2 separate regions of the Homo sapiens genome follow, and region 2 is linked to region 1. The links come from fine-mapping of genetic effects on gene expression. Tissue or cell type: whole blood. Region 1 holds a variant in brackets; the other region holds the start of a gene. All regions are shown on one strand. Distances are between the middles of the regions. Region 1 overlaps LOC101927623 (a long non-coding RNA gene). Region 2 holds the start of GOLM1 (golgi membrane protein 1).

The links.
Region 2: it holds the start of GOLM1, and the variant in region 1 is fine-mapped to the expression of GOLM1 in whole blood (INTERVAL, PIP 0.91).

What each region holds. Positions count from the first base shown.
Region 1 is chr9:86,129,259-86,134,637 of GRCh38, forward strand. It overlaps LOC101927623 (a long non-coding RNA gene), which reads left to right. Exons shown (of 5, transcript NR_110996.1): 2 at 1-70. It also overlaps the pseudogene LOC100287212. Among named protein-coding and RNA genes, the nearest start is that of GOLM1, 32 kb to the left of the region's middle. The variant A/G (reference allele first, on the strand shown) is at 2,212.
Region 2 is chr9:86,096,815-86,102,193 of GRCh38, forward strand. GOLM1 (golgi membrane protein 1) reads right to left here and starts at 2,744. Exons shown (of 10, transcript NM_016548.4): 1 at 2,597-2,744. RefSeq lists an enhancer at 2,185-2,685 and silencers at 2,316-2,365, 2,526-2,625, 2,636-2,955.

The DNA.
Region 1 (5,379 bases):
CCAGGAAGAGAGCCCTCACCAGGGACCAAAATGGCCAGTGCCTTGATTTTGGACTTCAGCCTCCAGGAGAGTAAGAAATAAATTTCTGTTTCTTAAGCCACCTAATCTGTGATATTTTGTTATGGCCATTTGAACTGACTCAGACAGCCAGGATCACTTATTTAGTTGTTCATTAATTTATTGATCCATTCAAGAAATTCAACAACTCTCTATTGAGTGCTTTATGTACCAGGCACTGTTTTTGGAGGTCAGGATGCATCAGTGACAGAAGACAAAAAGATTCCTACATTGTAAGCTTACCTGTAGGGACAGTAAACAATCAACATTAGAAGTAACTAAATCTGTGGTGATGATACTATACATTTTGTGATGTACCTTAACAGTACATAAATGTCTTTTACACCCATTATTGCATCTGACCTGGCAGACCCCGGGAGGTATGAGGAAATGAAGCCCACTCTCCAGGTCACATGGCTGGTACCAATTATAGTAGTAGCTAATAAGTATTTAGCTGCTTATTATGTGCTAGGAGCTGTTCTATGTGTGTGTTAACTCATTGAATCCTAGCAACAATTCTAGAAGTTGTTTTCTACAATAAAGGCACAGAGAAGTAATTTGTTCAAGGTCAGCTGGGTGCAGTGGCTCACACCTGTAATCCCAGCACTTTGGGAGGCTGAGGCGGGTGGATCATGAGGTCAGGAGTTCAAGACCAGCCTGGCCAAGATGGTGAAACCCCATCTTTACTAAAAATACAAAAATTATCCAGGCGTGGTGGCAGATGCCTGTAATCACAGCTACTTGGGAGGCTGAGGCAGGGAATTGCTTGAATCCGGGAGGTGGAGGTTGCAGTGAGCTGAGATTGTGCCACTGTACTCCAGCCTGGGTGACAGAGGAAGGCTCCATCTAAAAAAAAAAAAAAAAAAAAAATTTGCTCAAGGTCAGACTATAGTAAGTGCTGAGCCATGTTCTGAACTAGTGAGCATGCATCCGTCATGTGAAGCTCCTCCTTCTCTTGAGCCATCACTCAGTTAGTTGTTTGCCCTCCTGGTAGACTGTAAGCTCCTTGCAGGCAGGCCCCCAACTCTCTGCTTCACCGCTTTCTTGGGCACACAGCAAGATGTCCACAAAGTCTGAACACATAGGCAAACGTGCACAGTGTCATCAAGGACATCTGCAACTTGTAAAATCTGTTTCCAGACTTTATAAATACTCTGTAGGTACTGAATGAATGAATGGATGGATGGATGGATGAAATCTGGGTCCTTTAGCCTTAGCTTCCCACCACACCACCCGCGTTCTTTAGATAGTTAACATCTATTTCCTGCCACAGTTCTCTGTCTAAGAATACAGATTTTGAGGATGAGAGGGGGTAATATAACTAGCTTTGCATTATGCAAGAAGGGAGAGTCATCCTTTCCTTTAATACTTAAATAGTAACAATGCAGGCCTCATTCTTCAGAAAGCCCGGGATCACTTCTAAGGATCCTGGTGAGTCTGCGAATTTCTATACATTCATTTGTTGTTGTTTTCCACTTCTTGCTGTGGATGTGTGCTCTGGGTTTCTCCCGCCTCTGGCCATCCCTGGATAACTCTGATGCCTGCATGGCTGTAGCAGAGACTCTGAATGCAGGTTGTATGCCTGATTTAGTTTCCTACGCTGCTATAATAAATTACCACATATTTAGTGGATTAGAACAACACAAATTTATTATCTTACAATTCTGTAGGTCAGAAGTCTGACATGGGTTTCACTGGGCTCAAATCAAGGCGTCAGCAAGACTGTATTCCTTCTGAAGCCTCTAGGGAAGAATCTGGTCTTTTACCTCCTCCAGCTTCTAGAGGGCACCTGTATGCCTTGGCTCAGGGTCCCCTTCCATTTGCTAAAGCCAGCAACGTTGCATTTTTTGTTCCTTCCTTCTGTCATCATGTTTCCCTCTGACTACAGCCAGGAAGCATTCTCTGCTTTTAAGGGTTCATGTGATGGCATTGGGTCCACCAGATAATATGAGAAAATCTCCCCATCTCAAGATACATATTTTAATCACTCCTGCAAAGTCCCTTTTGCCATGTAAAATAACATATTCACAGGTCCTGGGATTAGGGCATGAACACTCTGGGGGAGGGGGATTACTATGTATACCACAGTGCTGACATCAGTCTTCCCTTCTGTACTAATAGAACTTCTGGTTTTTCTGGTTTTTAATTGAACAC[A/G]TGGGCATCCAAAATAAAAATTACATCTTCCAGCCTCTGTTGCAGCTAGATGCTGTCATGGGAGTATGTTCTGGTCAATTAGATATGGAGATATCATGTGGGGCTTGAGGAGCTATCCCTCAAACATGGGGGAGTAACCTTCTTCACTGCCTTCCCCCTTCCTGAGAATGTGACCTGGCAGCTGTCAGTCAGGTAGTCATTTTGGACCCTAGGTGGATGTGACATGTTGAAGATGGTGGAGCAACAGAATAAAAGGACCCCAGGTTCCTGATGGTCATGGAGTCCCCACACCAGTCCTAGGCTGTTTGACTTTGGACTTTGTTTACATTATTGAAATGTTGTCATATTCCATTACCTTTCACTTGCAAGTGAACCTAATCCTTACTGATATTGTGGCTGTCTCACTGATACAATGGGTTTGCTTCCTTCCAAAGTAGGGGCACAGGCCTTTATTTCTCTTTTTCCCCTAAGGCACCAAGAATACAACATTGTTAGCTATAACCAACTCCACTCACAAACTAAAAATACAGAAAAGAAAAGTTTAACACTGGACATCAGATATCCTAGCTCTGGAAGTCAGTGGGCCATGTCTCTTCAGGGGTACTTATCCCTTCTTCCCCCTTTCCTGCTACTGCAATGCTGGGGCCAGCACCTCTCCTTCTTCCTTAGGAGTCCCCCTCTCTCATTCTGCTACTCTCTGGCCCACCCTCCAAAATTGCTAAACAACCCAGTAATCTCTGCAGAGCCATGCCAGTCCATAACAAGGATGGCCTTTCAAAACATACCAATTACAGTGCATGCTTAATGTCTCAGTAGACAGCACCTACTTTTGTGTAGAAGCTTCATTTATATCCATGTGACTAAAAGGGCTCACCAATGTGATTCCTCCTTGAACTGATGGAAATTTTCCCTTCAAAATAAATTCCAGCTTTTATCACTGTTTGCAAATGTTAGTACTCTAGAATTTCCAGCCATCAGATACATAGATATCCACTGTATGTACATCTATGATTATTGAAGGCAGTAGGGAAAATCCAACAAGGGAGAAAGCTGAACAAGCGTGGAAAATGAGACCAGGAGAAGAAGTGAACAGCTTTGTATTTGGATGGAGAAGAAAACAGCAAATGCTGACATTCGTCAAAATAAGACAGAGACTAGGGTTGCAACGAAGTTGCAGTGAGATGAAGGTGGCCGCACCGGTTGTAGATGGTTGAGATGGTCCCTGGAAGTGGCAAGGCTTGAGCAAGGCTGGGAGATAGCAGCAGAACCTCGATGTGCAGCCTCAGTCCGGGGCAAACGGGCTTCCCCAACACCCCGGCTGGTTGGATCTCTGGCTTTGCATCCTTTCTGATGTGGTTTTCTTCTTTGCATACCTTTTGCCATCACTGATTTACTGACATCTACATTAAGAAGTTGGCCCTGGAGTGAATTCTGAAAATGACTACATACTTCTTGAATAAAGAAGATAGGACTGTCAGTAGAAGAATTTCAAAGCTCTAAGGGACCATCCTTTTATTTTACACTGTGATATGGTTTGGCTGTGTCCCCATCCAAAATCTCATTTTGAATTGTAATAATCCCCATGTGTCAAGGGTGGAACCAGGTGGAGGTAATTGTTCTCGTGACAGTGAATGAGTTCCCATGAGATCTGATGGTTTTATAAGGGGCTTCCCCCTTCGCTTGTCTCTCATTCTTCTCCTTCCTGCTGCCATGTGAAGAAGGACATATTTGCTTCCACTTTCAACATGATTGTAAGTTTCCTGAGGCCTCCCCAGCCCTGTGGAATTGTGAGTCAATTAAACCTCTTTTCTTTATAAATTACCCATTCTCAGGCAGTTCTTTATAGCAGCGTGAGAATAGACTAATATATATTGTTATTAATTTGGAGAACTCTATGAAATGGGTAGGATTTCACCCACTCATAGCTAAGTTGTTAAAACTAGACCCTTTGGTTCATGTTTAAAAACGTTTCCAACAGCTGATGGTTTTACAGGGGCTGAATATAAAAGTATTTGTACTGAAGGATTTTGTGTATTCATTAAGAAACATAGTAATGTCTTTTCTTTAACATTTTAAGGGCTGATCAGGGTTTAATATGATGCAAATAATATGATGATTAATAAGGTGATGTTTTTATTAATTCAAAAGTAAATTATTTAAAAGCGGGGAAGCATTTTGAGAGAAGGAACAAAGTGCTCTTAGACGGCATGGAGGCTATAATACAAAAGATATACAGGAAATGCAGGCCCATAATGTATTTATTGGCTCTAAGTTCCAGCCTAATTTTTAGATTAAGTGGGACTCTTATGAAAAGACAGGTCATGATCAACAGGTTGATATAGTCTTAAGAAAAGTAGATAACATCCAGCTATTGGAAAGTTAGCATGCATGCTCTCTTACTTGGATATCTCCCCCTTTCCTTTAAACTCTTGAGCCCCCTAAAATTAAGGAGTATGTAGTTCAAGCATATTTTTTATTACTGTTACAGTAAGTATGCTTGTGGCCAAAACATTTATTTTATTTTTATTTTATTTATTTATTTATTTTTGAGACGGAGTCTCGCTCTGTTGCCCAAACTGGAGTGCAGTGGTGCGATCTCGGCTCACTGCAAGCTCCGCCTCCCAGGTTCACGCCATTCTCCTGCCTCAGCCTCCGGAGCAGCTGGGACTACAGGCGCCCGCCACCACACCCGGCTAATTTTTTGTGTTTTTAATAGAGACGGGGTTTCACCGTGTTAGCCAGGATGGTCTCGATCTCCTGACCTCGTGATCTGCCCACCTCGGCCTCCCAAAGTGCTGGGATTACGGACGTGAGCCACCGCGTCCGTCCCAAAACATTTATTTTTACAATGTCTGTAACTTGCTTAAATACTTCAGCAAAATCAGCGTGATATTTACTCATTCAACCAATATTTGTGCCCTCACTATTCATCAGGCATTATTTTAGACGCTGCAATGAACAAAACAGACAGAAATTCTGGCCTTTGTGGAGCTTACATTCTCATTTGTTATTTAAATCGAAATTTTATTTAAGAAGAATTTGCATTCTAAAGGTGATCAGCTAGTATTTAACCAGAAAGGCCACATTCCCACAGCAGCTACTGTAAGTACCTGAGAAGCTATCCCTGCTAGCCCTAAAGGCTTTATATGAGGAATGTTAGAAATGGAC
Region 2 (5,379 bases), 32 kb before region 1:
ATAAGCAACAAATGCACATACAGAAGAGTGTTAAAAAAGTTTTTTTATTACTAAGAAACATCAAAAAAGTTGGGAAACGATAGCAAATTACAATATAAACAACTATAATCATATTATATAGTATTTATATATGTACTTTTTTCTGTCAGGCACTAATCTTCAAAATCTTAGCAAGGGAAGTCCTACTAATAAAGTGCTTAAGGGTTTTAAAGGAAAATAAGACCAAAATGTAAAAATCTGAGAAGGCATGGACTTTTTTTTTTTTTTTTCCTGAAAGTGTGAGAAATATCTGTGTGAAAGAAAGGAAAGACTCTCTGGAAATTTAAGAAACACTTCATAAATTTGGAGACAAGTCTCTCTTTTAATGTAACTTCATCAATAACGTGAGAAGTCCAGAAAACCACCATGATCTTTAAGAACAGTTTTTGGGGAGCAAGTGAAATATCATTCGCCCTTTTCTAAGGTGAGAGCAAAAGCATAGTAGCACCATTCCTTCTGTTCCTTCTACTTTTTTACAAATGTTTAAAAAATTGTTTTGTTTTACAAAAACAGAAGTGCTTTTAAAAAATCCCAATTACAAATGTTATTTCTCACATTACGTCACTGAAAAAGAAATGTATCTTTTTTCATAGGGCAACTTATTTTTTTTTTATTTCAAGAAAAAACAAGTAATAACAATAATGCTGCAGAATTTAAGCCAAAGGCACAGAACACCGCTCCCCCGCCCCCAATGGCCACCCCAGGTCCTTTGAGAAAGGCGGCTGGACCTCAGGGACCACGCTGCCTTCAAGCTCCCTCCCACCAATAGTGCCCATCAACTGACACCTGTCTTCTTCTCAGCACACCTGCCTAAAGTGATGCTCCACCCTTCCTACTGATCCACGCAGACGCATTTTCCCCAGGTTCTGCCCTCTGTACTTCCAATGCAGAAAGCCAGCTCGCACTTTCACAGGATAAGGGTAGCAGTTCCCTCCTTCCTGGGGAAGGTGGCCATATATATATAAACCCGGGTAGCCCTGGGCCTGCTATGGTCAGCTGTCCTAACTGTTGTTTCTGCCCAGCCCTCAACAACAACAACAACAGCGGGTGGAATGTAAATGCAAAATCTTTTCATTTCCCATCAATAACTGGACCTAAACCAGCCATTAGAAAGCAGATGGTATCCCTGGCCCTTAATATCCAAGTCACCACAATTTCCTGGCCCCACCCTCAGCACTACTTTCCTCTCATTTCTTTCGTTTTCCTGTAAAACCAACTTTAAAAAAAAATGTGAAAATTGGATAACCTCTCCATAGGAGAACAAAATGTATCTTAAAAGCTAACCTCTTTTCTTTAACCATCCTAACAATTCAATTTTTGTTCACTGACACCTTAAGAATTGAGTGTCTGGCCTAAAAACAGTAAGTCTTAGCAAGTTACTAGTTTCTATTAAGAAAGAAAGTAATGAGCTTAGCTTCATCTTTTATAACACAACTGGAAGAAGCTAGGATGCCTTTGGAGACCCACAAAAACTGACAAGAGATTGTCCCATGCCCTCCAAAATTCAGAAATACTAAAACTGAGATTTGAGCCAACCTGATGGCCATGAGCTAAACAAAGCCACTCAAGCGCTGCTAAATACTTCATCAGGTTATTGTGTATCTCACTAATCCAGCCCTAGAAATGTTCCTCAATAATGTGCATAATGTAGGGCCTAGGGACCCCAAATCAGACAAAGAAAACCTCAAAATCGTGAAAGTCACACAAGTTTAGTTTTGCAAATCTGGCTATGGGACATCTGAAATTGTCCAGCATCATCATGGTATTTCAAATATAATAATTCTTAAATTTTGCTAAAAAATTTCATCAAAATTGTTATTCTTCACATTTTGTTTCTTAAAAGCAAATCATTAAAAATATTAAATGGGATATGATTTTTACAGCAGGGCAAAGTTGTGTGGATCCTCCACGTTGGCAAAGGTGGAAACACAGGTATGCGAGAAAACCCCGAGCATCCACGAGAACGGGATGCAGCCGCGCTCTGGACGCGCGGCGGGAGGACCCGGAGCCCAAGCTCCGGGGTCACCAGCCACGAGGCCCAGCGGCAACGTGGACCCCAGGGCGGCCGGAGCGCGCCTGGGGCTGGAGGGGAGGAAGAGGCGGCGGGAGCCGAGAGACTCGCGGCTCGGCCAGCCTCCCGCGCCTGGTGCAAATCACGCTGCAGAACTGGAACTAGTGCGACTTAGGGGGTGCACGCTTTTGACTTTGGATGCCGACGCGCGTGACAAAGCTCAGAACAAAAAGACAGGCCCCGCATCGCCTGAGACTGCAGGGCAGGGAATCCTCGCGAGGCCCCTCATCGCAGGGCAAGGGGGCCGCGCGCCCGGTCTTGGGGAGCGAGCCGAGGGGCCCAGGCAGCCGCGGGCTACTCGGTGCAGGAAGGTGCGGAGCCAGCCCCGAGCGCAGCCAGCGAAGGTTGCAGCCCCGGCGCAAGCCGCGGGGAGGCTCCGGGGACCGACGCGAGGTCTCGGCGCGCGGGGTACGGGCCCTGGGCAAAGGAGGGAGGAAGCGATGGACCGCGGTTCGGGCAGCCTGGGGCCGCGCGCCGCCCACTCACCTCTTTTCGAGGCTCCGGCCGCCACTCGGGGATCCGGGGCCCCGCTACGAGGCCGCCCGGGTCGCTCTCCCGCCGCCGCCGGCCTCGAGCTCCGGCCGGCTCCGCGCCGTGCGCCCAGCGCCTCCGCGTCCAGCGCCGCCGCGTCTCCGGCCTCCGCAGCGGCAAGGCCCCGCCCCCGAGCAGCGCCGGCGGCGCGAAGGGAGGAGGCGGCGCCGCGAGCGCGGAGAAGCGAGGCAGGGGCTGCCGGGGCCGCGCGGACTCCCGGCCCCACGGTGCGCGCGCCCCGGCCGGTGGCCGCCCCTCGGCGGGAGCAGGAACGCCAGCGTGCGCCCAGTTCTCGCCGCTGGGCGTTGCCCCTTCCCCCGGGCCACCCCATCGCCCCTTCCGACGCGGGAGCTGGCGCCTGAGCAGCGACGCGGAGCGGGGAAGCGGCTGTGGGGAAAGGGTACCTGGGGGGAGCCCCCATCCCACGTTCCGCCCCGAGGGAATGTTCCCGAACAGCCAACCGCACCCAGCGCCACACTCACGTTACCTTCTTTATAAAAGTCGTCGGGTCAAAACTGCCCAGAGAAGGAAGCGAACGAAAAACAGGTTTTTAGGGGGCTTATACTCACAAAATTGTCTTTTTTCTCCCACGAGGCATTCCCTGTTGACCATCATCTCGCCTCGGTTGTCACCGCTCAGGCCTTAGTGTTTGGTCTGTGACCCTTCCACTGCTAGCAACGGAAAAAGTGAAGATTCCCGGACGCCTTCGGGTGTGATCTTATAGCCCGGGCAGCTGCATTTGAAACAGCGCCTCAGATGACGCTCAGGCGCACTGATGTTTGAGAAGCCCTATGAGGCCGTACCTCCCGGAGAGAATGCCACAAAACTAGTGACCTACAGGGAAACCATGCTAGAAAATTCTAAAGCAATGGTTCTTAACTCTGGCAGCACCTGCCATCCATTAGAATTATTTGGGGAGCTTTTAGAGCATTTAGGAACCAGGGTCCCACTTCCAGAGTTCAAAGTGAACTTGATATTTTTTGTTTGTTTTGAGCTTCCCAGATAATCCTAATACAGTATACGGCCAAGATTGAGAACAGTTTTCCTAGAATCATGTCTTCATGTCTTCCTAGCTCTGGTGTCTGGGAAAGGAAACTCCTTCCTCTGCGCCTCTCTCAAATCACAATAAAAAAACAAGTAAATACATGAACACCTAAAGGAATGCTCACAGCTGAAATTGATTTTAACCAGAACAAAGAGTCACCTTAAAAAAGGTGATCAAGATACCCTATTGCTACCTGAGCATGGAGCTTCTTAACTGCAGGAAACGTATCTTTACCAGCTAAAACCTCTTAGCTGAATTAGAAGCTGACCATACATGACCCCTTTAGAGGAATGTTCTACTATATTCCAAAATGATATTTTTGTTATCTGCAACTGTTAAACTGTTGTAGGGTCAGACCAAAGCATTCAGAAGCTGAGGCTGTATCAGATGTCAGCCCTGGTTTTGCAGACTTAAGTTGTGTCACTTTGATCTTCTAGTGAGCTTAAATAACCATAATCGGGGACAGGTACAGGAAATTCCCTTTCTTGCCCATTTTAGCTCTCTTAGTATAGTTTACATTCTTAGACTGGTGGACTGTAACTTCTATATCATTTGGCTCTAAGGAGGGTCTCCATTAGTCTCTCATTTATCAGCAACTAATTAGCGACTCACTCAGTGATTCTTAAACACTTTATGGAACAGGTCCATATGTCTAGGTGCTAAGGCAGCTGGCTGAATGAGCTATATTTTAATTGAAGATGAATTAGTCCTTTTCGTTAGATTCTTTATGACAAAAGTTGAAAATTTTAAGATGCAGTTTTATATATATCTATATACATAATTTACATTCCTTATAAAAAAGCTAATCAGTTGCTGGCCCTGAAAATTCAATTGGATGGGTTTTGATTAAACAATGTGCAAGGGGCTACAGTGGTTGGTTGAAGGAAGCATCCATGTTTTGCCTGTTAAGCATCCTTTCCTTAATGTCTTAGTCCATTTTGTGTTGCTATAACACAATTCCACAGACTCAGTAATTTATAAAGAAAAGAAATGTATTTCTCATAGTTCTGAAGGCTAGGAAGTCTAATATCAAGGTGCTGGCATCTTGCAAGGGCCTTCTTGCTGCATCAGCCTGTGGTGGAAGGCAGAAGGGCAAGAGGGTGTATGTGAAATTGAACTTGCAGCCTCAAACCCTCTATAATTGGCATTAATTTATTTATAAGAGTGGAGCCTTTATGACCTAAACACCTCCCTTTGGGCCCCACCTCCCAACACTGTTGCACTGGAGATTCAGTTTTCAACACGTGCTTTATGGAGCACACATTCAAACCATAGCATTCTGCTTCTATGCCCCCCACCACCCCCAGTTCATATCCTTCTCACATACAAAATACATTTATTCCATCCCAACAGCCCTAAAGGCTTTAATATTTATTTATTTATTTATTTATTTTGAGACAGGGTTTCACTCTGTCCCCCCGGCAGAAGTGCAGTGGTGTGATCATGGCTCACTACAGCCTCAACCTCCTGGGCTCAGGTGATTCTCCCACCTCAGCCTCCTGAGTAACTGGGACTACAGGTGTATGCCATCATGCTCAGCTAATTTTTTTGGTATTTTTTGTAGAGATGAGGTTTTGACATGTGGCCCAGGCTGGTCTCAAACTCCTGGGCTCAAGCAATCCACCTGCCTCAGCCTTCGAGAGTGGTGGGACTACAGTCATGAGCCACTGCACCTGGCAGCCCTAAGGTCTTC